Homo sapiens: one gene and its partners. The protein of the gene in region 3 purifies or fractionates together with the protein of the main gene of each other region. This does not show direct contact. Each region holds a gene or a part of one and is shown on either strand. Other genes may lie near its edges.

Evidence for each region.
Region 1: the proteins of ATP6AP2 (region 3) and KIAA2013 purify together in Homo sapiens (affinity purification with mass spectrometry; 4 studies listed by BioGRID and IntAct, with this or other methods). This does not show direct contact.
Region 2: the proteins of ATP6AP2 (region 3) and VMA22 purify together in Homo sapiens (affinity purification with mass spectrometry; 5 studies listed by BioGRID and IntAct, with this or other methods). This does not show direct contact.
Region 4: the proteins of ATP6AP2 (region 3) and ATP6V1D purify together in Homo sapiens (affinity purification with mass spectrometry; 4 studies listed by BioGRID and IntAct, with this or other methods). This does not show direct contact.

Annotation. Positions count from the first base shown.
Region 1 is NC_000001.11:11,923,422-11,931,177, forward strand, and holds the start of KIAA2013 (uncharacterized protein KIAA2013 precursor), read right to left. Parts: upstream 3,007-7,756; 5' UTR 2,817-3,006; coding exon 1,784-2,816; intron 69-1,783; coding exon 1-68.
Region 2 is NC_000002.12:130,339,164-130,346,546, forward strand, and holds the start of VMA22 (vacuolar ATPase assembly protein VMA22), read right to left. Parts: upstream 2,971-7,383; 5' UTR 2,963-2,970; coding exon 2,852-2,962; intron 2,782-2,851; coding exon 2,678-2,781; intron 2,587-2,677; coding exon 2,504-2,586; intron 1,877-2,503; coding exon 1,745-1,876; intron 600-1,744; exon of another isoform or gene 397-599; intron 70-396; coding exon 1-69. Other genes in the region: U3 small nucleolar ribonucleoprotein protein IMP4, read left to right, coding at 3,770-3,772, 3,923-4,031, 5,466-5,549, 6,213-6,322, 6,404-6,536, 6,616-6,949, 7,038-7,111, 7,193-7,305. UniProt on the Homo sapiens protein: Accessory component of the proton-transporting vacuolar (V)-ATPase protein pump involved in intracellular iron homeostasis.
Region 3 is NC_000023.11:40,597,969-40,604,990, reverse strand, and holds part of ATP6AP2 (renin receptor precursor), read right to left. Parts: intron 6,311-7,022; coding exon 6,257-6,310; intron 5,400-6,256; coding exon 5,250-5,399; intron 4,230-5,249; coding exon 4,110-4,229; intron 1-4,109. UniProt on the Homo sapiens protein: Multifunctional protein which functions as a renin, prorenin cellular receptor and is involved in the assembly of the lysosomal proton-transporting V-type ATPase (V-ATPase) and the acidification of the endo-lysosomal system.
Region 4 is NC_000014.9:67,349,794-67,356,815, forward strand, and holds part of ATP6V1D (V-type proton ATPase subunit D), read right to left. Parts: intron 3,248-7,022; coding exon 3,130-3,247; intron 898-3,129; coding exon 818-897; intron 1-817. UniProt on the Homo sapiens protein: Subunit of the V1 complex of vacuolar(H+)-ATPase (V-ATPase), a multisubunit enzyme composed of a peripheral complex (V1) that hydrolyzes ATP and a membrane integral complex (V0) that translocates protons.

The DNA of each region.
Region 1 (7,756 bases), on a different chromosome or scaffold from region 3:
ATAGAGCGTCAGGTTCACGGTGAGGCCAGACGGCGTGTGGGTGTCAGTGATCTTCTTCATTTCCACTCCTGCAACACCATGAAAGCGGCATGTTAAGGGGGAAGGACAGCTGGGAGGCAGAGCATACGAAATAAAGACCAAGGGCAGCAGAAGAGTGAGGTGTTGTGCCTTAATGATAAAGACAGTGGTGCCCATCTCCCTAAAGTATAGAAGAAAGTCAGCCTGTCTTGTTTACACGACCAACTTGAGCCTGTGGGCCTGAAATCTAGAATCCTGTTAAAAAGCAGCGGGGCCTGGTGCCAGAGCCCAGAGGAACACAGACTTAGCCAGGACTTGGCACCAACCCTATGGTCAGACATCCTGCGCCAGATCAGTCACCAGTGCTGAGGCCAGTCTCAGGCCACTTCTCCTCTCTGTCCTTTCTCTCTCCAGTCTTGTAGCTTTATGTATGTATGTATTTATTTGTTTATTGAGACAGAGTCTCACTGTGTTGCCCAGGCTTGAGTGCAGTGGAACGATCTCAGGTTACTACAGCCTCCGCCTCCCGGGTTCAAGTGATTCTCCCGTCTCAGCCTTTGAGTAGCTGGGACTACAGGTGCAGGCCACCACCCATGCCTAAAACAGCCCTGGCAGAAGCATTCAATAGACACTTGCTGAATAAACACGTGCTGGGCCCCTTTGCTACTGATGGATTCAACAGCCCTAAGATTTAAAAACATACACACACACAACTTTGTTTCTGTGAAGATGACCATCCTCTCGCCGGGCGCGGTGGCTCACGCCTGTAATCCCAGCACTTTGGGAGGCCAAGGTGGACGGATCATGAGGTCAGGTTAAGTTTTGTATTTTTAGTAGAGACAAGGTTTCGCCACGTTGGCCAGGTTGGCTTGAACTCCTGACCTCAGGTGATCCACCTGCCTCAGCCTCCCAAAGTGCTGGGATTACAGCGTGAGCCACCGCGCCCAGCCAGCACATTCTAGCCTAAAAAGATGCCTTATTTTAATTTTAATTTTCACTTTTCTAATGTCTGTCTTCCTCCCAACCAGAATTTAAGCAAGCACCATGAGAACAGGAACTCTGGTTCCCATCTGCACCCCCCCATGCATAGAACAGCCCTGGCAGAAGCATTCAATAGATACTTGCTGAATGAACTCAACTCTCTGAGCAACCAAACACAAAGGTTCAGACAATTGGAACCCTGGAAACCAAAACCCCTCTCTCATCCAGAACAGGATTTTCTTTTCTTTAACAGTCAACGAGAGGAGAGTTTTCATCGGGCGGGAGCATCTCAACCTGCTAAAAGGGATTCTCCAACCTCCCTGTGAACCAGTTGCAGCCACAACTGCCAGGACGCACCTCAGCCTAGCAGGGGTTATGTCAAGAAGCCCACGTCTGTCACCAGGCCGACTGCGGTGCTGAGCAAAGAATCAGGGGATCCACCTGCTGGTTTCACCTCTGCAAACTGACTCTAAAACACTTCACTCTGCTCACATCAGGCCCCATCTACCAAAACAAGTAACAGAAAGAATTGACCTTTACACTCAATTGTCCACTACAGTCTCATAAAAACCTTCTGAGGTAGGCGTTATTGTTATTAAATACAGGCCCAGAGAGATTAGGCGACGAATCCAAAGGTCGCACAGACACTAAGCAGTTGAGCAGATTCAACCACTGGTGAAACGCCAAGCCCAAGTTTCAACCACCCCACCATCACCTTCAGTGTCACCTCTGCAGACTTGGGAGGGACATATCTAGGGTGGACCAAGCGCTGGCCAGGACTCACCTGGGCTGAAGAGCTGAGCCCAGAGGAGCTGGTGGTCTTGAAGCAGCTCCGCCGCTGGCATGTCCAAGAGCTCCAGCATTTCCTTCCGTGCCAAGTCCTGCAGCGCCTTGAGCTCCTTGGCTGCTTTGCTTTTGAGCACCTGGGGGTTAATGGGGCCAGAGACGTGCACCACCCACAGCACCGTCTCATCCAGCTGCGTCTTGGGAGCCACTTGGAGGCGGTTCACCAGCTTCTTGGCGGCCACCACCACCAGGTGCACCAACCCAGTGGGCGTAGGCGGGGACCGGCCTGAGTAGAGGAGGAACTGATGGTCTCCGACCTTCTCCAGGGTACTGGTGAAGGCCTTGGGGGCTGGGCCGGCAGTGGGCCCCACAGTCTGCAGCGCGGCCACGCGCTCCGTGGGGTTGTTGAGCTGGATGCGCTGCAGGTAGACGTGGGGTCGGCCCCTGTGCGCCAGAAAGTCCTCTTGCAGCAGCACGCAGTCGCGGCCGGACCCCGCGGCAAGGCCAGAGACGGAGGCGGGCCCGGGGCCGGCGGCCACGGGGCCAGGACCTGGGGACCCCAGCTGCAGGCAACGCACGCGGCGCAGAAGCCCCTCCCGCAGCAGCAGCACCGCCTCTCCAGCTTCAGCCAGCGCGCTCAGCGGGCGCAGCTGCACGAAGGGCACAAAGTCCGGCGCCACGGCGGGCTCCCGCTCCCCGGGAGTCACCCACAGCCGATTGGCAGCCACGTCCAGGGCCAGGAAGCCGTTGGCCACCAGGGCCGGCACTCCAGGACCCAGCGGTACCACCTCACCGCGCTCCCGCAGGCCGCGCCAGGCGCGGGTGGCCGCCTCCAGGCAGGCAGACGGCTCGGCGGCGCCCGGCTCACCGCGGGACCAGGGCAGCAGGTGCAGGCCGCCCGCCGCCCGCCGCGCGCCGGACCCCCCAAACCACAGAAGCAGCAGCAGGAGGCCAAGCAGGCAGAGGAGGCGGCGGGCCCAGCTGCTCGACAGCAGTCCCGGCAGCCCCTTGAGCCGCTGCTGCAGCCACATCGGGCCGCCAGGCGCGGGCAAGGGTGCGAGGGCGGCCGCCGGGCCCGCCGCCCAGCCCACCGGCCCGGCCGCCCGCGCCTCACTGCCCGGCCCGGACCGCGGCGCCCACCCCGGCCCCCGCCGCAACCGCCGCAGCAGCCGCCACCCCTGCTTCCTCCTTCTTCTCGGTGGCCTCCAGCCGTCAAACGACGCCGGCGGTCAAGCGTCGCCGTGTCTTTTACGACAGATGGAAAACGGGAGGGCGGAGGGAGGAGAGAGAGCAGGCCGGAGAGAAGGGGGCGGAGCCACGGCGAGGGCGGGACAAAAGCTGCCGGGGGCGGGACCACTCGTTCCCAGGCCGGAAGAGTGAAGTCCAGTGGAGTTAAGTGCAGGGGTCTGGGGAGGACTGGAAGCATCCAATTCACTCGTGAAAAAAACATCGAGCCAGCCAAACCGAACACGTGTTGGGCCCCTTTGCTACTGATGGATTCAACAGCCCCAAAATTTAAAAACATACACACACACACACACAACAACTTTGTTTCTGTAAAAATGACCATCCTCTCGCCGCGCGCGGTGGCTCACGCCTGTAATCCCAGCACTTTGGGAGGCCAAGGCGGGCGGATCACGAGGTCAGCAGTTTGAGACCAGCCTGACCAACATGGTGAAACCCCATCTCTACTAAAAATACAAAAACTAGCCGGGCGTGGTGGCGCATGCCTGTAATCCCTGCTCCTCAGGAGGCTGAGGTAGGAGAACTGCTTGAACCCGTGAGGCGGAGGTTGCAGGCTTGCAGTGAGCCGAGATCACGCCACTGCACTCCAGCCTGGGCGACAGAGTGAGACTCTGTCTCAAAAAAAAAAAAAAAAAAAAAGACTATCCTCACTGCAAAAAAACACTTGGAACAATACGAAAAAGTGGAGGAAAAAAAAAGGAGAGAGAAGAAGAGGAAGAAAGAAGAAGAAAGGAAAAGGGAGGAGGAGGGGAAGGGGAACCACCAGAGGCCAGGAGTGGTGGCTCACGTCTGTAATTCCAGCACTTTAGGAGGCTGAGATGGGCAAATCACTTGAGGTCAGGAGTTCGAAACCAGCCTGACCAACATGGTGAAAACCTGTCTCTACTAAAAATACAAAAATTAGGCTGGGCACGGTGGCTCACGCCTGTAATCCCAGCATTTTGGGAGGCCGAGGCCGCCAGATCACGAGATCAGGAGATCGAGACCATCCTGGCTAACACGGTGAAACCCTGTCTCTACTAAAAATATAAAAAATTAGCCAGGCGTGGTGGCAGGCGCCTGTAGTCCCAGCTACTCGGGAGGCTGAGGCAGGAGAATGGCGTGAACCCGGGAGGCGGTGCTTGCAGTGAGCCAAGATCGCGCCACTGCACTCCAGCCTGGGTGACAGAGGGAGACTCTGTCTCAAAAAAAAAAAAATAAATAAATAAAAATAAAAAAATAAAAATGCAAAAATTAGCTGGGCGTGGTGGTGGGCGCCTGTAATCCCAGCTACTTGAGAGACTGAGGCACGAGAATCGCTTGAACCAGGGAGGCAGAGGTTGCAGTGAGCCGAGATCGCGCCACTGCACTCCAGCCTGGGCAACAGAGCGAGACTCCGTCTAAAAAAATAAAAAATAAAATAAAAACTAACCACCAGAAACTAGACTTCCCCAAAAATATTTTGTTAACAGACCTGTCTAGCTGCATGCACACCACACGTGGACACAAATCCAGCCAAGGGCCATCAATGTCTCCACTACACCAAATCGTCTTCTTGATGTCAGTCCTAAGTTTTAACTTATTAAATAACATAAGACACTAACGTCTCATACTTTGAAAATGGCTTTAAATTGTGAATCATCGATGCAAAAGATAAATATTGCTTTGTATTTTGGGAAAAAAATTCAATATAAGCACAGAGGCAGACAATGGGTGATTGTTTCCACTTTGGTTTCAGTACATTCCAAAGCCAGACAGTGCTTCCCAGTTGTTGGAAATTAAACGGTCATTTGAGGTGGCCTCTGGTGGGCTGTGAGCAGACACAGAAATGTTTGCTGAGGCCAGTGCCCTTTAGAAGGAACTGTCCAGGTGGTCCTACAGTCTGCTTACCATTTTTATTTTTTTTATTTTTTTTATTTTTTTTTATTTTTTATTTTTTTGAGACAGAGTCACACTTTGTCCCCCAGGCTAAAGGGCAGTGGTGCAATCTCAGCTCACTGCAACCTCTGCCTCCTAGGTTCAAGCAGTTGTCATGCCTCAGCCTCCCAAGAAGCTAGGATTACAGCCAACACACCTGGCTAATTTTTGTGTTTTTAGTAGAGACCAGGTTTCACAACATTGGCCAGCATGGTCTCAAACTCCTGACCTCAGATGATCCAACTGCCTCAGCCTCCCAAAGTGCTGGGATTACAGGCGTGAGCCACTGCGCCTGCCTTATTTATTTATTTATTTATTGAGACGGAGTTTCACTCTTGTTGCCCAGGCTGGAGTATAGTGGCGCGATCTCGGCTCACCACAACCTCCACCTCCTGGGTTCAAGCAGTCCTCCTGCCTCAGCCTCCCGAGTAGCTGGGATTACAGGAACCTGCCACCACACCTGGCTAATTTTTGTATTTTTAGTAGAGATGGAGTTTCACCATGTTGGCCAGGCTGGTCTGGAACTCCTTACTTGTGATCTGCCCACCGTGGCCTCCCAAAGTTCTGGGATTACAGGTGTGAGCCACCACCCCCAGTCCTATTTATTTATTTATTTATTTAGAGAGAGGGTCTCACTCTGTTGCCCAGGCTGGAGTGCAGTGGCACGATCACAGCTCACTGCAACCTCCATCTCCCAGGCTTAAGTGATCCTCCCAACTCAGCCTCCCAAGTAGCTAGAACTATAGGCCGTCACCATTATGCCCAGCTAATTTTTTTTTTTTTTTTGGTATTTTTTGGAGAGGCAGGTTTTTGCCACATTGCCCAGGCTGGTCTTGAGCTCCTGAACTCAAGCAGTCCTCCTACCTTGGCCTCCCAGAGTGCTGGGATTACAGGTGTGAGCCACCACACTTAACCTTCTTTATTTTTTTTTTTCAATTTTTATTTTAGGTTCAGGGAGTACATGTGCAGGTTTATTACAAGGGGATATTGTGTGATGCTGAGGTTTAGGCTTTTTTTTTTTTGAGATGGAGTTTCGCTCTTGTTGCCCAGGCTGGAGTGAAATGGCACGATCTTGGCTCACCACAACCTCCACCTCCCAGGTTCAAGCAATTCTCCTGCCTCAGCCTCCCGAGTAGCTGGGATTACAGGCGTGTGCCACCATGCCTGGCTAATTTTTTGTATTTTTAGTAGAGACAGGGTTCTCCATGTTGGTCAGGCTGGTCTGGAACTCCTGACCTCAGATGATCCACCTGCCTCAGCCTTCCAAAGTGCTGGGATTACAGGCGTGAGCCACCGTGCCCAGCCTTAAGGTACTGCACTCCAGTCTGGGAGACAGAGTGAGACTCTGTCTCAAAAAAAAAAAAAAAAGAAAGAGGACATTTTATTATGATTTATTTTTACTATTATTATTATTAGGGAGGCTTAAGTGCTAGTGAGAGGTGATCATCCATCTAGCAGCACAGAATATGGCCATCCTACCGAAGCCCTTGCTCTTCCTGGGGCCAAAAAAGGAAATGAATAAAAGAAAAGGATGAAAATGAGAAAAGCCCCTCATGTCACCGGGCAGCTGCCCTCCAGGCCAGCTATCCTTTCTACACCTTCCCTAGAAATCTGAGTCCTGCGCCTTTAACTGTCCACAGCACGTGCAGCACGTACCAGAAGTAACATCTGGACGGCAGCCACCACTGGTTAAAGAGACAGGCCCCCTTTCTCCATGAAGCTTGGGCAGGGTTCAAGTTTCAGCAATTTGGTGAAGGGAACAGGAAACAGATACCAAAGGAGGAGAGGGCAGGCTTTGCCAGAGTGAATCCTTTCTCCCAGAGAGGCCAGCAGCCTCCAAGATTGATTCCCCCTCCTGACTTAAAATGACTTTTGGGCATGGGACTCCCACTGCCCAAGGGGTTTTTTCTTTTCCTTTTTTTTGAGACAGAGTCTTACTCTGTAACTCAGGCAGAAGTACAGTGGTACAATTACGGCTCACTGCAGCCTCAACCTCTTGGGCTCAAGTGATCCTCCCACTTCAGCCTCCTGAGAAGCTGAGATTACAGGCGCACACCACCATGCCCTCCTAATTTTTTTTGTGGAGACGGGAGGTGGGTGGGGGCGGAGGGACGGGTCTATGTTGCCCAGGCTGGTCTTGAACTCCTGGTCTCAAAGGATCCTCCCACCTCAGCCTCCCAAAGTGTTGGGATTACAGGCGTGAGTCATGGCACCTGGCCTCAAGGTTTTGTTTTTTTTTTCTATTCATAGTACATCACCATTGAGGTTCTCCTTGGACTACAGCAAATGGAGGGTTAGAGCTGGGTTCCAATGCTGCCTCCCTTACTGTAGTTCTGCATCAGTTGTGTGGCGTCGAGCAGATTGCTTCACTTCTCTGGGTCTGTTTTCTCATTTTGCAAATGGGGCAATACTGTTTAATTAGCAAGGCTGTTGCGAGCAGGGAATGAGGGAGAGTTTTGAAAACTGAACCAGGGGCCGGGAGCATTGGCTCACACGTGTAATCCCAGCACTTTGGGAGGCTGAGGAAGGCAGATGTCTTGAGCTCAGGAGTTTTAGACCAGCCTGGCCGACATTGTGAAACCCTGTCTCTACAAAAAAAAAAAAAAAAAAAAAAATTAGCCAGGCAAGGTGCATGCCTGTAGTCCCAGCTACTCAGGAGGCTGAGGTGGGAGAATCACCTGAGCCCAGGAAGTTGAGGCTGCAGTGGGCTGTAATCACACCACTGCACTCCAGCCTGGGCAGCAAAGTGAGACCCTGTCTCAAAAAAAAAGAGAACATGGAACCAGCCAACAAATGCTCATTCTCCTCCCTCTGCTCCTCCTGGCATTTC
Region 2 (7,383 bases), on a different chromosome or scaffold from region 3:
CCCGGAGCTGGCTTCGACCCCAGTCAATGCGGTTCTGGAGGCTGGCTATGTCTGCGGCCAGCTGCAGGCCTGGAGGAAAGGAGAGAAGGTCACCATGGTATCTGTAGTGTAACACACGACCCAGGAGGATCTGGATATCCCCAGAAATTGGAAAGGCTTCAGGCCTCTCTGCCCCCCACACTTGTCCCAAAACATTCCAGGTACGGCCCTGCATTGGCTGCTCCAGAACCTCTGAGGCCTTACACCTCCTTCAGGTCTTTGCTAAAATGTCACCTCCTTAGACTTCCTGGACCCATTATATCACCCACCAGGAACTAAAAATTCACAGATAGTAATACCATTTCATGCCCTCATTTCCTTCCTTCCCCCATTATTACAGCATCTCTCTGCCCTCACCTGCTCTCCCTCCACTTCTTTTCTCTGTTAGTCCACACTCTGGATCCACCTCTAGATGGCTTTTGCTGATGTCTCTGCTGGAACAGCTGCTGCCCAGTCCTCCGGGCAGCTCTCGTCTTCGGCCTCCTGTTCAGCAGCAGGGCTGACCACACATTGGATCACTCGCTCCAGGAAACACTTTCTCTTCTTGGCCTCCAGGACACCTGCCCCCAGGTGTTGCTCCTCAGTTTCCTTGACTGGCTTCTCCCCTCTTCTCCCTCACCTCCCGTCCATACTCCCCAGGCCCTCTGCTGATCTCATCCTATCTCAGCTTTAAACCAGTGTTTGTGTCAAAAACTTTGGAATTTAAACACCAGTGCTATGCAGTGGACTCCCAAATCTCTCTCCAGCCCAGGCCTCTCCCAAACTCCAGATACATGTGCCCAAGTGCCCACTCAGACTCTCCAGCAGGGCGTCGGTGGATACCACACAGACCACACCAACTCCTGCCTTCTGGAATCCTCTCAGCTGCCCACAGCAGGTGAGGGTCGCTCCATCCTCCCAGGGGTTCTGGGTGGAGACCGCAGGCTCTCCTGGACTCCTTTCCTTCCCTTACTCCCATATCTTATCTGTCAGCAAATTCTGGGGCTTCTATTCTTAAAACCTGTGCAGGTTCCCACCACTTACCTCCTCCTCCAGTGACGCTATCTGCTTCTCACACTGGCTGCTCCCTGACACCTACTTCCTCCCTCTGCTCTGTGTCCCCGCCCAGCACCCAAGCATTCCTGTGACCCTGTACAGCCAGTTGCACCATCCTCTGCTCAGAGCCTCTCTGTGGGTCCCACAGTCTTCATCAGGGCTTACATCACCTGACTCCACTCTAGGCCACCGGCCTCGGCACATACCAGATATATCTGGCTTCAGGGCTTTTGTCCTGGCTGGTTCCTCCATCTAGAGCACTGTTCCCCAAAATCACCCACAAAGCTTTTCCTTCACCTCCTCAGAGAGACCTCCCCTGGCCCACTCCTGTCCCACTCCATTATGTGTTTTTCATAACAATTTTCACAGCCTGACTTATGTTAAGGGCCTACTTATTTGCACGTTGCCTTTGTCTGCTTCTAAACATTACATGAAAAGTGTTTGTCTCTTTTGTTCCCTGCTGTATCCCCAGCAGCTAGCATGAACCCGAATGCTGCCAACAACCAGTAAATGCTTTTGGAAAAAATAATGGGTGTACAACGGAAGTTTGGATGGAGGAAAACCTGCAAAGCCTTTCACAGACTAACCCCAGCCATGGCAGCAGTGCTCAAGTGTTCCCTGTGGATAGAGGGTCTGAGGGCCACAGAGCCAAACAACACGGTCCACTCACCATCCCGGAAGCTTGCTTGAGCCTGACGTAGACTGTGAGGAACTAGGATTCCAAACCAGTTCAGGGGGTCCTGAGGGGCCTCAGAGGACTCCGGTTCTGGGGTCTTAGTGGGGCCCTTGCGCCTCCGCAGACCTGAGGAAAGAAAGGTTGGAGGAGGCTGGGATCTTACTCCCTGACCTTTATCATCTTGGTGACAATGTTGAGCTTGATCTGAGCTCATGATTCTATAAAACACTGTTGGTTGGAAAATTCCAACTTTGGGGTTCCAGGAAACAGCTTACCACAAAACACAGCCTTTCCCCTTGTGATTCAGATGAGACTGTTTGTCCACTCTTTCCCGTGACTCCTGTAAGACCCACTGATGACCCTGTTTGCCTGTGACACTGATCTTACCCATTGTACCTGAACATGCCAACAGACCAGACATAGACGTTCCAACTCCCCATTCTTTGTCTCAGGATGATTAACTGGGATTAGAAGTTTGTCCCTCTGAAACTAGCTAGACACACAGATAAATATTTTCTGTTCAGCTGACTGAAATGTATGTGATTGTAAATCTATTCCCAGTGTAAAGCAACTCACCAACAATTTCTCTACTTCCTATAAAAGTCTAAGGCAAAACCACCCTACAAAAACATTCTGTTCTTCTGCTCTGGGATGCTCTCTCTTATCGCAAAAACCTAATTTAAATCATCTCCATAATTTGCATTTTGTCTTTGACACTGGGAAGGGGTTCTGCAGAAGGAAGAGGGGGCTCACCTGCTTCGCGAGGCCCCACCTCCTCTGGGGCGTGGACACCAGCTCTCACCACCTTGAACTTCTGGAGTCCCTCCTGGGCCTCGCTGAAGGACGAGAAGGGAGGATGGAGCTTTGGCAGCCCGGGCCTAGAACGCGCCCGCCCGCCCACCCAGCCCAGCATGGAAGCTTCCTCACCTGGCGTGGAGGCAGACCTGGGGCTCCATGTGGGAAGCATACTGCAGGGGCCCTACCGACTTGGCGCCCATCGCGTAGCGAGCCTTGGCGAGCGAGAGCCAGCCCTGCAGGGAGAGGAAAGCGGTGAGACTCAGTTTACGCCCGTGTACCCTCCTGCCCGCCCCAGGCGCCTACCTCCTCCACCCGGGCGTTCAACACCGTTCGTTTCCCCTCCAGCTCCTCCAGGTCCCCAAGCAGCTGCAGGACCAGCGAATCCAGCTCCGCTCGCAGGTCAAGCGCCGCCATGGACACACCTCCAGATCTGGAGCCACCTTCTTCCTTGTCACCCTCCGCAGTTTGGCAGGACAGCCAATAGGCACACGAGATCCTCCATCAAGGGGCGTTCCCATCTGGGGATCCCCACGCCGGCAGCACCAAGGCCTCTGGGTCAGCTTCTTTAAGGGCAAGCGCCCTTAGAGAAGCAGCACGGAAGCAACCAATCAACTGGTTTCTCCAATTAGCCCCCAAGTGGATCAGCCTGCTGAACTGTCGGCTAGGGTTATAGGTGGTTCTGAGTCCTTCCGGAAGCTGCCGAATCTTAGAAGTCGCGCCACTGTTGTGGCGATGGAAGAAGGCGAAGCTCTACAGAAACCATTTTGGTTGAGGGAAGAGTGGTTTTAAAGTTAATTTGGAAAGGAGCCGGCAAGCAACCTTCAGTCGGTGTGCGGTTTTTACAGTTGAACTGTTTCCAGCCGCTAATTATGATTGTTTTAGCGGTTCGTCATCTGAAAACTGCATTCTGCACGGCGGTGGTGGGGGGAGGACGAGGATGGAGAAGCCTGGGCGGACATATTTATTAGCTGCGGTCCTAAGTCACGTGTGACATTCTGTATCCAGTCTATCGGTTATCCCAAGGAGAACGCCCTGCCGGAATGGCCAATCGCCTTGAGATGTCCCCGCCCTATTCGCCATCTTAACATAGGGCATTCCCCACAGCTGCAGGCACCAGTGAAGCGTCTAAGGGACCATCTTGGTTGAGGGCGGAAGTGAGGACTGTGTCGCGCTGGAGGAGCCCACAGATTCTCCCGGACCCACGTGGAAGCGGCACTCAAGATGGTAGGAGAATGAGCTCCTGTTTCGGAGGTCCGGGGCGCGTGAAGTGCTGGGGATGTGGCTCTGGGGACTTGGAGGCTCAGCGGCTCCGGGGCTCCGGGGTTCCGGGGCTCGGGAGCGAGTAGTGAGTGACTGGGCCTGCTGTTCCCACAGCTGCGCCGCGAGGCCCGCCTGCGCCGCGAGTACCTGTACCGCAAGGCCCGGGAGGAGGCGCAGCGCTCAGCCCAGGAGAGGAAGGAGCGGCTGCGGCGCGCGCTGGAAGGTAAGGCATCGGCCCCGCGGGCGTCTGCGTGGTAAACCACCCCGGCACGCATTTGTGTTCGAATATCCGAGCGTCTTTCCAAATGCTTGCCGGCCGTTTTCCTTGCCCATTGGGTTCTCCTGTTGGTTTTGAGAGTGTTTCTTCCGTGTGATGGTATTAATTACTTGTCACTGACGTTGCAGTACCCGGGTTTTGCAGCTTGCCCGCTGTGTGCAGTGTGTCAAGTTCGTCCCAAGTTTTAAAGACTTTATCTTGTCCTGTAGAAATTCTCTTTAGAGCGGTGGCTCACTGCTGTAATCCCAGCACTTTGGGAGGCCGAGGCGGGCGGATCATGAGGTCAGGAGTTCGAGCCTGACCAACATGGTGAAATCTCGTCTCTACTAAACATACAAAAATTAGCCGGCCGTGGTGGCACGCGCCTGTAATCCCAGCTACTCAGGAGGCTGAGGCAGGAGAATCGCTTGAACCCGGGAGGCGGAGGTTGCAGTGAGCCGAGATCCTGCCACTGCACTCCAGCCTGGGCAAAAAAGCAAGACTCCGTCTCAAAAAAAAAAAAAAAAAGAAATTCTCTCTAAAGACTATCTGGATAGCGCTGGTGCTGCAGACTGCGCTGCCCATCCTCCCTGCAGGAGTTCCTCTGAGCTCCGTGGGGAACAGTGCTGGCCCCGAGTGCGCACCTGGAGCGCTGTGCTCTGCGGTAGGCAGCCTGTGGTCCAGGGCCCGCTGAAGCCATGCCTTCGAAGCGCTGTGGGCATCGTGACCAACGGTTTTGCTGTCTGAGAGCTTAAAGGTCTCTGGTCCACCATCATACGTACAGAACAGTCTATATTTCTTTTCAAAAGTAATTTTTAAGGCCGAGCGCTGTGGCTCACGCCTGTAATCCCAGCACTTTGGGAGGCCGAAGCGGGTGGATCACGAGGTCAGGAGATCGAGACCATCCTGGCTAACACGGTGAAACCCCGTCTCTACTAAAAATATAAAAAATTAGCCGGGCGCCGTGGCGGGCTCCTGTAGTCCCAGCTACTCGCCAGCCTGAGGCAGGAGAATGGCGTGAACCCAGGAAGCGGAGCTTGCAGTGAGCCGAGATGGCACCACTGCACTGCTCTGCCTGGGTGACAGAGCGAGACTCCGTCTCAAAAAAAAAAAAAATCGATGTTTAGATTTCTACCTGATTATAAAAGCAATACAGTACATTAAGATATTTTAGAAAGTCCTCAAGTCATGAGACTAAAGAAAATGAAGTCCTAGTAACCACTGTTTATGGGGGTTGGCCTGTAGAAAGTTTTGTCACCTCTATCCATGCTTTATCCAAGCTCAGAAAGGGCTGAGGTATTTTTATTTCAAGCATGTGCAGGCTAATAAGCTGTGGTGTATTGGATGAGCTGAGGTCTCCATGCTTGTGACTCACTCAGCCCCTCTCTCTTCCCTCTGCAGAAAACCGCCTGATTCCCACTGAGTTACGCCGAGAGGCTCTGGCCTTACAGGGGTCCCTGGAGTTTGATGATGCTGGAGGTGAAGGTAACTATACAAGGTAGCCCTCCCCAACACTGAGCTGGCAGGTCTCCAGTCCTTCCTCAGACACACCGGGCACCATCCCATCAGAGGAAACTGCTCCTGGAACTGTCCCCCATGCCCTTGTCACTGCACAGATGGCATTGCAGGGCTCTCCCTGAGTGTGCCCTGTCCCACTTACATGGCACACATGGGAGTGCCTCACTGACTCTGCACCTGGCTTGTTAATTACCTCCCCCACTGGAGTGCCTGCTGGGGAAAGACAGTGTCCCTCACACATTATTGGTGCCCATACGTTTATTCACTGCATTATTCAAGAAACAAGAAAGGAATCCCAAACATTATAGATATTTGTTACGAGGGAAAAGAGTTTGTCACCGTTGGCCTTAGCAGAGTGTGGATTTCGTTGTGTAATGGAGTAGCTGCTTAGCCCCATGTGACTAATATAGCTTAAGCAAACTACAATTAAACAAAAGATTCTGTTTCTCAGCCACGCTTGTGCTCAGCAGCCAGAGTAGTTGGAGGCTGCCCTCTTGCCCGGTGTGCATGTGGAGCATTCCTATTGTTGAAGGCTTCGGCAGACAGCGACATCCAGGCGGTCTTGGCTGCCCCGAAGTTAGCATTTCATTCCCAAGACTGTCATGTTCTTGCCCCTCGTGCTCCTGACAGGTGTGACCAGCCACGTGGATGATGAATACCGATGGGCAGGAGTCGAGGATCCCAAGGTTATGATCACTACCTCCCGAGACCCCAGTTCCCGCCTCAAGATGTTTGCAAAGGTACTGGTGAGCAGGGAGTGAGGGAGAGACACCCAGGACACACAGCCCCAGTCCTGACTGTACACTGCCATCCACGCCCAGGAGCTGAAGCTGGTGTTCCCGGGCGCCCAGCGAATGAACCGAGGTCGACATGAAGTGGGGGCACTGGTGCGAGCCTGCAAAGCCAACGGCGTCACCGATCTGCTGGTCGTTCACGAGCATCGGGGCACACCTGGTAAGGCCGGAGGGAGGGAGTCGGGGTGGGAGCCGTCTGAGGGCAGACGGGGTCTCTGACAGCCACCTTTCCCCGCCAGTGGGGCTCATCGTCAGCCACCTGCCCTTTGGTCCTACTGCCTACTTCACGCTGTGCAATGTGGTCATGCGGCATGACATCCCAGACCTGGGCACCATGTCGGAGGCCAAGCCCCACCTCATCACACACGGCTTCTCCTCCCGCCTGGGCAAGCGGGTGAGTCTGGGGGCCTTCAGGCTGGGGCTGCGGGCCAGGCCAGGCATTTGCCACTCTGTTTCCCTCTCTTTCCTTGTGCCCCAGGTCTCTGACATCCTCCGATACCTATTTCCCGTGCCCAAAGATGACAGCCACCGGGTCATCACCTTCGCAAACCAGGACGACTACATATCATTCCGGTGGGTCCACGGGCCATGCCCCAGGAAAGCATCCCCACCCTGTGTACCTCGTGCTGCTTGCCGTTGACCCACAGCTGTTCCCTCCCAGGCACCATGTGTATAAGAAGACAGACCACCGCAACGTGGAGCTCACTGAGGTCGGGCCCCGCTTTGAGCTGAAGCGTGAGTTTGAGGCTGAATCCCGTGTCTGGGGTGGGGAGGGGAGGCTGGCTGTGCCGGGGCTGATGCCATCCCTGCCTGCAGTGTACATGATCCGTCTGGGCACGCTGGAGCAGGAGGCCACAGCAGACGTGGAGTGGCGCTGGCACCCTTACACCAATACCGCACGCAAGAGAGTCTTCCTGAGCACCGAGTGAGCACACTCACCACTCAGTCAGGACATGGACTTGGAACTCAGGATGGGGCTGTCATAGACAGACCCACCAGTAGGAACT
Region 3 (7,022 bases):
TTGCACTCCAGCCTGAGCAACAAGAGCAAAACTCCGTCTCAAAAAAAAAAAAAAAAAAATCATCAACAGAATGGAATTGTGGTATATCCCTACAAGCAGAATATGTAACAGTAAAATGACTAAACTACAGCTACATTTGTCAGCCTGAGTGAATCTTAAAAAGAATACTGAACAAAGAACACAGAAAAATACATGTAGTATGATTCAATTTATATAAAATTCAAATACAGGCAAAACCAAACAACACTGTTTAAGAACAAATACATATGCAGTCAATCTGTAAAGAAAAGCAAGGGATTAACATGATATCCAGGACAGCAGTTACCTCTGGATGAGGGAGGGTAGAGGGAGAAAATAGGGAGCTTCAAAGAAGCAAGCATTCTCTTAAGCTATTGATATGGTTTGGCTCTGTGTCCCCACCCAAATCTCATCTCGATTTGTAATCCCCACGTGTCGAGAGAGGGACCTGGTGGGAGGTGATTGGATCATGGGGGCAGTTTCCCCCATACTGTTCTCATGATACTGAGTTCTCATGAGCTCTGATGGTTTAAAAGTGTGCCACTTTCTCTCTCTTTTGCCACCTTGTGAAGAAGGTGCCTGCCTCCCCTTCCCCTTCCTCCATGATTGTAAGTTTCCTAAGGCCTCCCCAGCCATGTGGAACTGTGAATCAATCAAACCTGTTTCCTTTATAAATTACCCAGTGTCAGGTAGCTCTTTATAGCCATATGAAAACGGAGCTATACAGTGTTATTATTTTTATTATTTAAATAACTAGTATTAAATATGTTATATACTTATGTATGTATGATCCACTTAACACTTTTTTTTAAAATACAGAGCTGTGTAAAAACATTGTTTGGGAAACTGAATTCATTCTGACAAAGGCACTGTTTGGGAAATATCATTCATTCTGGCTAGAGAATTTTAAAAGTAGGAACACAGCAGGAGATGAAGCTAGAAGCAGGGAAGCTACAGAAAATCTGACATGAGCCTCTGGGCAATAAGGAGCCATTGACAAGCTTTAGGCAGAAAGTGAGTGACATGATCAGGTTTGTCTTAAAAAGATAACATTAAAATTAAAAATTAGCTGAGTGTGGTGGCTCAAGCCTATAGAACTGGCTACTCAGGAGGCTCAGACAGGTGGATCACCTGAGCCCAGGAGTTTGAGGCTACAGTGAGCTATGATTGCGCCACTGCACTCCGGCCTGGGACAGGGCGAGACCCTGTCTCAAAAAAAGAAAAGAAAAAAGATAACTTTGATGACAATGTGTAGGATGGATTTGGGAGGAGCCAGCTGGGAAGCAGAGAGACAGATGAGTTCAGACAAGTTAGGAGGCGGCAGTCAAATGAGGTGGGAGAAATGGGGGCAGGGTGCCTGGCAGTGAGGATGAGAACGAAAATGTAACCGAGATCTATTTGTCCCTACAGCCCCAGCACCTGGAATGTTGTGAGTACTCAGTAAATGTTCCTTAAACTCCTGTCTCCTTAAACTAATGGAAGAGAGTGATTTCAAATGTAGGAGAGAATGGGTACACAGGCATGCATATTTACCTGCGGGGAGCTCAGAGCTGAGGCAAACGTTAAAGGATTTCACGCCCATGAAGACCTCTTTGTTTCTTTCCTTTTTTTTTTTTTGATAAACATGTTCTTTTTCCTACCCATTTTAAGTGTACAAGTCAAGGAATTTTAGTGGTTTCATAGTTATCACCACAATCTAATTCTAGAACATTTCTATCACCCTAAAAAGAAATCTCATAGGCCGGGCATGGTAGCTTACACCTGTAATCCCAGCACTTTGGGAGGCTGAGGTGAGCAAATCACTTGAGGCCAGGAGTTCAAGACCAGCCTGGCCAACATGGTAAAACCCCATCTCTACTAAAAGTACAAAAATTAGCCGGGTGTGGTGGTGCATGCCTGTGATTCCAGCTACTCAGGAGGCTGAGGCAGGAGAATCACTTGAATCTGGGAGGTGGAGGCTGCAGTGAGTTGAGATTGTGCCACTGCACTCCAGTCTGGGTGACAGAGTAAGATCCTATCTCCAAAAAATCCAAAAAAAAAAAAAAAAAAAAAAAAAAAAGAATTCTCTGGGAGGCATCCCCACTCTCAACACATGTGCTGACCACCCAGAGCCCAGGTGCCTTTCTGTTTCCCTGTGCTGGTGGGCAAAAATTTCCAGTCTACCCTCTCACTGAGGGCACAGCTCTCTCGGGGTCCCCAGCTTTATCTGGAGTTGTCCATTCCCATCCCCCACACACAAGGCACCAAAGGACTCTTGGTGACCCAGCTGGCAAATATCCTTAGGGCGGCCTGCTTACCACATTCGGTTTTTTTTTTTTTTTTTGAGATGGAGTCTCACTGTGTCACCCAGGCTGGAGTACAGTGGCACAATCTCAGCTCACTGCAACCTCCGCCTCCCGGGTTCAAGCGATTTGTCTGCCTCAGACTCCTAAGTAGCTGGGACTACAGGCGTGCGCCACCACGCCCGGCTGATTTTTTGTGTTTTTAGTAGAGACGGAGTTTCACCATGTTGGCCAGGCTGGTCTCGAACTCCTAACCTTGTGATCCACCCACCTCGGCCTCCCAAAGTGCTGGGATTACAGGTGTGAGCCACCGCACCCGGCCTCCTCTTCTTTATTTACTCTGTAAGAGAATTTCCCTTTCTTGCGAGCTGAACTATGTATTTTTATTTTTGTAATTTTTTTTTTATTTGAGACGGAGTCTTGCTGTGTCTCCCAGGCTAGAGTGCAGTGGTGCAATCTTGGCTCACTGCAACCTCTGCCTCCCGGGTACAAGCAATTCTCCTGCCTCAGCCTTCCAAGTAGCTGGGATTACAGGTGCCCGCTACCACACCAGGCTAATTTTTGTATTTTTAGTAGAGACGGGGTTTCACCATGTTGCCCAGGCTGGTCTAGAACTCCTGGCCTCAGGTGTTCCGCCCGCCTCAACCTCCCAAAGTGCTGGGATTACAGGCGTGAGCCACCACACCCAGCCCAAACTATGTACTTTTTAAAAGATCTTTATTTTTATCTAGCATTTCTAGACGTTTTATGGTGGGAAATCTTGGGTGGTTGTCTAGACTGACATGCTGTCTGAAACAAAGGTCCTTCCATCCCCAATTTAATTTAGAAAGAAACAATCTCAAACCAGTAATCGCTAGACTATCTCAAACAGGCACTGGCTTCGACCTTCCGACTCCAAGTCCCACACTGACTTCAGTAAAACTGAGCAGGGTGAGGGCTGCAAATGGGTCTGAAGCGGAGGTGTATGTAATTGAGTGGATATCTATCTGCTGCAAGTGATACAGCCAGCCCTAAGCAATGTTCTCAGACGTAGGATGTTAGGGAGCATCTACACTACTCTTTCCCATCACCCTCCCTAGGTTCTGCTGCAGCTGTAAGTATATATGTATGTATGTAAATGTGCACGTACATACACATAAACAGATATGTATTTTACCATGGCCAGCAACCATGGTAATGCTTAACCCTGACCCTCTAAATGCTTAAAATCAAAGCAAGATCCATACCCAAAAAAACTGTTAAGTAAATCAAAATCATAAAGAGGTGCACACAGAGGATCTCAGTAAGTGAGGGACTACGCCACAAAGACAATGTGCCTGCTAGAAAAGCAGAGCCCATAGGATGTGGGCACCACACCACTCCCGCACACATTCACTTCTTTTTGTTTTCAAAACAGGGTCTTGCTATGTTTCCTCAGACTGGCCTCAAACTCCTCCTGAGCTAAAGCAATCCTCCTGCCTTGGCCTCCTGAGAAGCTGCAATTACAGATGCACGCCACTGCACCTGGCGCCACATTAACTTCTGATATCTCCTTGTGTGTACTGATATTTGAATTATAATCTTGGACAGATTTACTTTTATCCCTAATTCAAATTCTTGCATTATCTGATTATAACCCTAAAGAACTGATCATCACTGGCAAAGCACACATATGTATGTGAACAAGAAGCTTACGTTTTAACTGAAATTGTTTTTCAGATTTACTGACTGCTCATTCATGTCACCCTTAGGTGATATAGGACTTGGTTTTTTTTTTTTTATAAGAAGTTAATTTTACAGTTTTAAAGCAGGATCTCAAAATATACTCACCGCTTGTTTTGCCTCAAGGATAGTCCTTGTCTTCCTAATGAGGGAGGTGTCAAATGACTTGACAGTGACTAACTCTACCACTGCATTCCCACCATAAAGACTGTACATGTCATCTGCAAACTGAAAGTTAGTTATTAACATTATTGGGAATCTCAACTATGTACTTTTTTCATTTTTAATTAACAAATTAAAATCATATATATTTATCACATCAACATATTGTTTTGAAATATGTACACATTGTGGAATGGCTTAAGTCCACATTGGCTAATTAACATATGCATTACCTCCTACTTATCATTTTATGCAGTGAGTCAAATACATACTTATTAAAATTATTTTTAAAGCTTTTGTGCAGCTACAAGAACAATGTACACTTACCTCCTGGCTCATGAAATATACTACATCTTACAATAAGCAAGTCTTAAAGGTTTTGATTTTGCTCAACTATACAGAAAAGTGTTAAGCTTTAACATATATTCAAATGTTTAGACTAAAATTACTTTAAGAAGAGACTGAATTTGTCAGCATATAAATTGGAGGAAGGGAAGTTGGAAAGAGAAATGAAATCTTCCTAAGTGGTCTCTGGTTAATCACAAACATCTATAAAGATTAAAATATGAAGCCTCACTGAAAGGATGCAGGTGAAGAACTTCAAGGGCAGAGGGGAACTAGCATTTATTATGCATCTACTGTCTGGTACTGTGCTGGGTGTTCTACTTCAGTTATCTCATAGTGTTTAAGGAGTACAGAGTTTCAGTTGGGGAAGAAGAAAAAGTTCTAGAAATAGAAGATGGTGATGGTTGTACAACATGTGAACGTACTTGCACTTAATACCACTGAACTGTACAATTAAAAATGGTTAAAGTGGTAATTTTATGTTATATATATTTTACCACAATAATTTTGTAAAGCTTTGTGTGAGATAACTTTTCCTAATGCTGTTCTTTCTAGCATTAGGAAGAAATATATCAATATACATTTTTGACCCTACTCCATCCTTGGCCAGTATAATTAGAGGAGCCCCAAAGAAGGCAAATAAGAGTTCAATCAACAGTGTTTGAAACAGCAGATTTTTCTATTAAGAGGCTAAAAGTGAAATGGTCATACTCCAACCTCTCATGTCGCATTGATATTTACCTTTTGCAGAGCGTCAACAAGGATCTTAGAAGCATCTCTGAATTGTTCAGAGTCTTCCCCATAACGCTTCCCAATTTCATCCAAACCTGCCAGCTCCAGTGAATATAAATCAGGAGAATGATCCTTGGCTAGATGCTTATGACGAGACAGCTTAGGAGAACAAACAAACAAAAAAAGGTAGCGGATAAAGTAAGATGAAAGACGTCAAACACAGCCAGTTAAAGTTTTATGCCTAACTAAACTAGGCTAAACTAAACCATACCAGTGTACCACAACATGCAAATAGTCTAAAATGGTGGCAAAAGAAACTGGTTTGAATAAGCGTTTCTGATAAATCCAACACGAATCTCATGTTTAGGAGCAGTACAAGACTCCTTGGATATTTAATAAAAGCTTTCAACAAAATTCCTCAGTTTTAAAAACTCAGGTATGGGCCAACGTATGAAAGAACAGATGGCTGGACCAGTTTGATCCCAGGAATGCACTACACTTCCAGACTCCCCGAACCAACACCTGTTGAAAAAGTTTGGAAAACAACTTCAGAAGGTAGCAAACAGATAAGAATTTCTATTTCAGTAACAAGGATGATTTTTAAAAAATCATTCACCAAAAAAATACCCTTCAGACGGATTTCGTCCCTTCTTGACTTGACTGACAGCATTATTAGTCCAAACTATTATTTCTATTTTAGGCCCAAAGATATAGATAGGAATTAAGTCTCACAAGAAATCAACAGCCAAGTTAGGACTATGGCCAGGGTGTTCTTACGCCCAGGCTTGTGTTCTTGGAAGATATGTTGTCTCTCCCTAAAAAGCAGAAATGCAAAATAATTTGACTATAACATGGATGTGTTCAAAATTCCCAATATTGCCACTAATTTTTCAATTTTCATGGGATCATAAATCTAGGGCATACTTAATCAAACTTTTCAACTGCCTTTACTATTATTCAAGGATTCTCTAGAAACCAAAATAAATGGAATTAAAAAATTAGAGCAGCCTACTTACCAAGCTTGAAATATCATGTAGCACTTGCAGTTCAGAAAGAAAGAGCAGGTCAACCTTCAGAGAGCCCAAAAAAAAAGAGCATTCTTTTAAATGTGCACCAGAGATCTTTATTTGCCATTTACCAAGCAAGGCACAGGATATTACAAATGTTGATCATATAAGTGAATTTATATAATTATCTTCCATTTGGTATGTTTGCTTCAATTGAAAATGCATATAAAACATTATTTCCTAACAAAAAGGTGATGGCCATTCCCTAGCACAGTGACTGCCACTCAATAGCTATATTTTTGGCAAAACCATGATAAAGCATCCAAGTTCTCCAGTGGTTTTCCTTCAAAGCATCAGGATATCCTGGCACTCTGCAATGACATCCTACCATTGGCCCAGTTTGCTCACTTCCCTTGAATAGTTTCCACATCAGAGAATAAAGGATGATGGCCCTGGTCATCCACAGCAAATAAAAAGGGGAGGCCACCACGAAAGTGGCATGCCACATGGTTAAGAGGGCGCATGAGCAGATGGAGAAACTGAAGGACAGGAGTCAAAAGTAGAGGTGGCTCCCTCCACTGCAATGTCCAGAATGAATGAGAAAAATGTGGCAACAAATCAGCAGAGGCAGTGAACAATGGCTTCCAAGTTACCAGATCCACACAGCTCCACCAGTCACCAAGTAGATCTATGACCTCTGGCTTGTTTGAATTAATAGGTGGCAACCCTCGTGCTAAAATGTGATGTTATTTACCACAGCTCAACTCACAAAAAG
Region 4 (7,022 bases), on a different chromosome or scaffold from region 3:
ACCCTCTGCTAGAAAATTCAATGCAAGCTGTGATCTTACCAGCACTGGCAAAAATGAAAGCCTACCACTTCAAAGGGCCTTATTAAGGCCCAAGAGCAGTGAAAGCTCCTAGATAATAGGCATCATGTCATTAGGAAAATAATAAAATCAGAAACCTTGAAAACAACTTCTGCCTCTGCCCCTAATTAGCCAAGTGACCTCAGGAAGGCATTTAATTAAAACTGAGAATAACAATGCTTGCCTTACCTATCTCATAGTGTTATTTGGAGAATTACATAACATATGTAAATTGGCATAACACATTTGCAAGCTATTTTGTATGCTTTGTAAAGGATTTACTGATGTCACCAAAGCCATGAAGTTCATGCCTTTTAAATAATCCAATTCTCAAAAATTTATCCTACGGGAATAATTCAGTAGAAACAAAAATACATATGTGTAAAAATGTTCACTGCACTTTCCCTAATATTCCAAAAAACTGAGAATTAACCCAAATACCCAGCATTAGGAGAAAAAAAAAATACATCTTGAGAAAGATCATACAGCCATGTTGAAAATAAGGAAAAATGTTTATGATACAACGTTAAATGAAAATGGACTCTAAAATACTAAGTATCCTGCGCCTGCAACTATGTAAGAATTACATGTGGAAGATGACAGTGGAGTTAAGGTGATGGGGTTAAAAGAATTCTTTCTTATTATTACTATATCATTTGTCCTTAACGCTTATTTCTAAATTAAAAAATGCTTTTTAAATGAAATTATGAGACTGAAATCACTTTGTTTTGCTTCAAAACACCCCGTTTAGTCCCCTTACCTGAAGTCACCTGCTGTGAACTTGGCTTCAGCTAGTGAAAAGGCAGCTTCTCTCATCACTTCGCCCATCAACATTTTAGTCTGGAAAAGCATAAACCAACAGCAGATTCAACCAAGCCTTTTACAAGGAAATATTCCATCATAATTATGTTCCTTTAATAACCATCAGTATTTTATGCTGGCTGTGCATGTAAATATTGGTTTGATAACGACAAACAGAAATTTCCAATTTTTAACAGTTTTGGTTATGATCACTAACAATATTACAAACTATGAGTTTTATAATTAAAACAGAATAAATGCATTGAGAAACAGAAAACTGAATCTTTACTGAAGGACCTATATTATTCCTGAATGGGTACATGCTGATTTACTCAAACTAATCTCTTAAATTCACTGCAGTTGCAGTCAAAACCCTAATGGTGTATTAATTTTAAAGTACATCTGGAATATTTAATGTTTGAGAATATTCAATAATGTTTCAGAAAGAGAAGAAAAACTGGGTCAGCTGGGTAGGGAGTTGCCTTCCCAAGTATTAAAAAGGTACAGCTACAATAAGGAAATATTAATATATCTGGTTTGGGACAGTTAAGTCAATGAAATAGACTAGAGGATTCAGAAACAACCCCAGGTCTATATGGAAATTTAGTAAAGAGACCACTCTACTGTCTATACAGTACAAAATGATAAAGCTACCTACCTCACATCATACTGCCCCCAAAATTCAGACATAATTAAGATAAAGGTTTAAAGAAAAAAAACTGTAAAGCAACAAAAGAAAATGTGGCATAATATTTTCTTAATCATTTTAGGTCTTTTCTAAGCCTTATATGTAACTCAGAAGCTATATAAAGAAAAAGACCAACAGATTTGACCAAAGGAAAAACATTTTTAACTTTTTATTATTTTTATTTTTTGAGACAAGGTCTTACTTTGTTGCCTGGGCTAGAGTACAGTGGTGTAATCATAGCTCACTGCAGCTTCAAACTCATAGGCTCAGGCAATCCTCCTGCCTCAGGCTCCCAAGTAGCTGGGACTACAGGTGCATGCCACCACACTCTGCTAATTTTCTTCTTCTTCTTCTTCTTTTTTGTAGAGACAAGGTCTCACTGTGTTGCCCAGGCTGGTCTCAAATTCCTGGGCTCAAACCATCCTCCCACCTCGGCCTCCCAAAGTGTTGGGATTACAGGCATGAGTCACCACACCTAGTATTAACTTTTTTTTTTAAGTTAAAAGAAAAGGCGTGGAAAAAATATTTTTAACATTTTACACATTAGGCAGAATACACATAGAACCTCTACCAAAAAAAAAAAGAAGACATTTACCAAGAAAATCAAATTGTCAATAAGCATGAAAAGCTCCTTAACTTCACAAATAATCAAAAGTAGTACAGGGCCAGGCACAGTGGCTAACACCTGTAATCCCAGTGCTTTGGAAGGATGAGGTGGAATGATCACTTGAGCCCAGGTGGTTGAGACCACCCTGGGTAATAAAGCAAGACCCCATCTCCACAAAAAATAAAAAAATAAAAATAAAAACAGCACTCATAGAAAATGCTTTTGTTAAGTACGTACAGGTTTAAAAATAAAACACAAAAACTGTAAACTCAGCACTTTCGGAGGCCAAGATAGAAAGACTGTTTGAGCCCGGGAGTCAAAAAGACTAGCCTGGGCAACATAGTGAGACCTCGTCTCTACTAAAAATAAAAAAAATGAGCTGAGAATGGTAGCATGCACCTGTAGTCACAGCTACTCGAGAGGCTGAGGTGGGAGGATCACTGGAGCCCAGTTTGAGGCTGCAGAGTAAGACCTTGCCTCAAAAAAAAAAAAAAAAGAAAAAGACTAGAAATAAAATGTCATACCATGCGGTAGTACATGCTACAATAAAATTAAAATAAGGAATTGTGAGAGAAGCAAACATGGTGTTCACTTTAGATTGGGTGATCAGGAACAGCCTCTCTTAAGAGACTAGAACAGCTAAAGGAGCCAGTTATAAGTTCTGGGGAAAGAGTATTTCAGGCAGGAGAAAGAGCTAATGAAAAGTACCTGGAGGACCTTAGGAAGAATGCTCTAAATAAGGTAAGAGAGGCAGGCGGGGGGCCAATCAGATCAAGTGGAGCTTTGCAGGCAAGATTAAAGAGTTTGGATTTTATTAAATGAACTATTTGATATTTGACACTTGTTAAACTTATAATGGTATTTTTACTTTTGAAAGAAAAAAATTAATTAAAATAACAACAACAAAAAAAAAAATGCCAAGGGCCATGCTGGATTTTTCTAAAATAAATACTATTCTAAGAAAAGTTCATTCTACCTCTATTATCTTCTTTAGGATCTGTCGAAATCGAAGAGTTAAGGCATCAGATTTTTTCTTCAGGAGGTTTCGACCTGTCTGTGCTCCCTTTAAACGAGCCTTCATGATGGTCTGTGCCCTATATAAACATAAACAAAGTTAAGACATCTATTCTCATTGTTTAAAAGACAAAAAAAACCCTCCCCACCAGTGTTAAAATTATCCTTTATCCTTTGATGTGATGAAAGTGAGACTATATAGAGAATTTGTAGCTGACAGGTTTAACTGATGCTATGGTTTGAATATGTCCCTAATCTTCATGTGTTGGAAACAATCTCCAATGCAACAATGTTGGGAGGTGGGACCATCAAGAGATGACTGGGTCATCTGGGATCTGCCCTCCATGAATGGATTAACGTCATTATGGTAAGACTGGGTTCCTTATTGCAGGAGTGGGTTGGTTTTAAATGTGAGTTCATCTGGGTACACCTGTAATCCCAGCTACAGGTGTAAGTGGGAGGATCCCTTGAGCCTGGGAGTTCAAGTCCAGCATGGGTAAGATAGTAGCAAGACTCCTTTTGTTGTTGTTGTTGTTGTTGTTTTTGAGATGGAGTCTCACTGTGAGGCCCAGGCTGGAGTGCAATGGCGCGATCTCGACTCATTGCAACCTCCACCTCCCAGGTTCAAGCAATTCTCCCACCCCAGCCTCCCAAGTAGCTAGAACTACAGGCGTATGCCACCAAGCCCAGCTATATTTTTTTGTATTTTTAGTAGAGACAGGGTTTCACCATACTGACCAGGCTCATCTCGAACTCTTGACTTTAAGTGATCTGCCTGCTTCAGCCTCCCAAAGTACTGGGATTACAGGGATGAGCCACCATGCCCGGCCCGACTCCTTATTTTTTGAGATGGGGTCTTGCTCTGTCACCCAGGCTGGATTGCAGTGGTATGATCATAGCTTGCTGCAGCCTCTAACTCCTGGTCTCATGAAATCCTCCAGCCTCAGCTTCCCAAAGTGCTGGGATTATGGGCATGAACCACTGCACCTGACCCTGTCCCTTTAGAAAAAAAAAAAAAGGCATGTTCGACCCTTTCTTGCTTTCTCTCTCACCCTCGCCTTCTGCCATGGGATAACACAGCAAGAAGGCCCTCACCCTTCTCAGCCTCCAGAACCATGAACCAAATAAATTTTTTTCTTTATAAATTACCCAGTCTCAAGTATTGTTATAGCAGCAGAAAATGGACTAAGACAACTGGTTTTCCAATAATGTAGATTTCTACCATCAGTGTTCCATAAATGAAAAGTTTATTAATTTACAACAGAAACAATTTTATAATCAATATCTGGAATATTTATTAAATCATCATAAATGTTATCAGGAGCCTTATTTTATGATGCCAACATAGTTTAAATACTTATTTGATTTGTAAGTTAAAATAATATCTTTGTTTTAGTTTCCACTGGAGGTATATTAAGGATTTAAAAATCTATCCACTAATATATATCAAAATTTTAAATGCAATTATTTTCAAGACCAACAATTCCACTTTGCGGAATTTATCCTACAAATTTATTCCCACATGTGTACAAAAACACGTGCAAGGTTTAAAAGATGGGTACTCCAGCCTTATGGTAATAGCAAAAGGGAGAAACAAGCTAAATGCTAAATACATCAGAGTTCACCTATGATGGAATGATATACAGTCATTAAAAAAGACGAAGGTATATAGGCATGTGCTGTCTATATAACAGTCTTATTTATGCAAAGTAAGGAAAAAATGTGCTTATATAGATGCAGAGAATAGTTCTAGAAAGGATTCACAAAAACTGGCAAGAGTTACCTTTGATAAATGGGACTGGATGAAAAATATGGATTTACTTTTTACTACTATATTCTTTTGTACCTTTTGCATTTTATTTTATTTTTTGAGGTGAAGTTTCACTCTTGTTGCCCAGGCTAGAGTGCAATGGCGCGATCTCGGCTCACTGCAACCTCTGCCTCCCAGGTTCAAGCGATTCTCCTGCCTCAGCATCCCGAGTAGCTGGGATTACAGGCATGCGTCACCATGCCTGGCTAATTTTTTATTTTTAGTAGAGACAGGTTTCTCCATGTTGGTCAGGCTGGTCTCGAACTCCTGACCTCAGGTGATCCGCCCACCTCGGCCTCACAAAGTGCTAGGATTACAGGCATGAGCCACCGCACCTGGCCTGCATTTTTTATACCACAATAATTTACCACATTTTCTATTAAAAGTGTGGTATTAACATGTTTTGATATCATCAATCAAGATCCTAACAGCAATCATTTTATTAATTTGTAAAAGACTAGGTAACAAATGACATACGTAAGATTCCTGAGAAATGACAAGCTAAATTTACACTGAAGTCTCCTCACTTCCTTGTTTCAATTTTTTTCCCCATCAGAAGCCCCAATACCAAAGTCAAGCAGAAACTGACATTTCTGTTCTTGCTGCCATATGCCAGATACAATTTAATAATGAAAAAAGTGGAGCCCAGTTCGAGGATGTAGAAGTAAGACCCTGTCTCAAAAAAAAAAAAAAAAAAAAAAAAAAAAAAAGACTAGAAATAAAATGTCATACCATGCAGTAGTACATGCTACAATAAAATTAAAATAAGGAATTATGACAGAAGCAAACATGGTGTTCACTTTAGATTGGGTGATCAGGAACAGCCTCTCTTAAGAGACTAGAACAGCCAAAGGAGCCAGTTATAAGTTCCGGGGAAAGAGTATTTCAGGCAGGAAAAAGAGCTAATGAAAAGTACCTGGAGGACCTTAGGAAGAATGCTCTAAATAAGGTAAGTGGTACAGTGGCTTATGTCTATAATCAGCACTTTGGGAGGCTAAGGTGGGTAGATTGCTTGAGTTCAAGACCAGCCTGGGAAACAAGGTGAAACCCTGTCTCTACAAAAAAAAAAAAATATCAAAATTACCTGGGCATGGTAGGGCACACCGGTAATCCCATATACAAAGAAGGCTAAGGTGAGAGGACTGATTGAGCCCAGGAGGTTGAGGCAGTGAGCTGTGATCATGCCACTGCACTGCAGCCTGGACAACAGAGCAAGACTCGGTCTCAAAAAAACAAGTGTTTGGGTAATAAAATTCAACAATAAGGTTGTATAACCTAGACACAGTATAACCTAGACACAGTGATTTAAGGGGATATAATTTCATATGACTGGTGTTTTAAAATCGCATGTACTAATAAACTTTTTTGGCCAGGTGCAGTGGCTCACACCTGTAATACCAACACTTTGGGAGGCCGAGGCAGGTGGATAACTTGAGGTCAGGAGTTCGAGACCACCCTGGCCAACATAGTGAAACCCCATCTCTACCAAAAAATACAAAAATTAGCTGGGTATGGTGCTGCATCCCTGTGGTCCCAGCTACTCAGGAGTCTGAGGCACAAAAATCACTTGAACCTGGCAGGCAGAGGTTGCAGTGAGCCAAGATCGGGTCACTGCACTCCAGCCTGGGCAACAGAGGGAAAACCTGCCTCAAAAAAACAAAAACAAAAAAAAAAAAACAAAAACAAACAAACACCATTTGGCCAAATTCTTAAATTATACTGGAATCTTTTACCATAGGGCTAAGATCACTAAGACAATTCTATAGCTGAAAGGGACTTTAGACATTAACTTAAAGATTAGAAAAATGAGGCTTAGAAAAGTAAAACAACTTTCTCAAAGTTACTCAGTGAAGAAAAGGCAGGGCAGGGACTTGAACCAGACTTTTGATTCCACTGACTTTCCCAATGCTCAAACTAAGGCTCCAACCTACGTTCACTGTACCCCAAACATGTGCCTCCCCTTAAAGAGAACAATTATCACTGGCTGACTCTGCACTGACTGGTCTCACAAGAGGTCTTATCAAGTGAAGGTCGTTTAGTTTCCA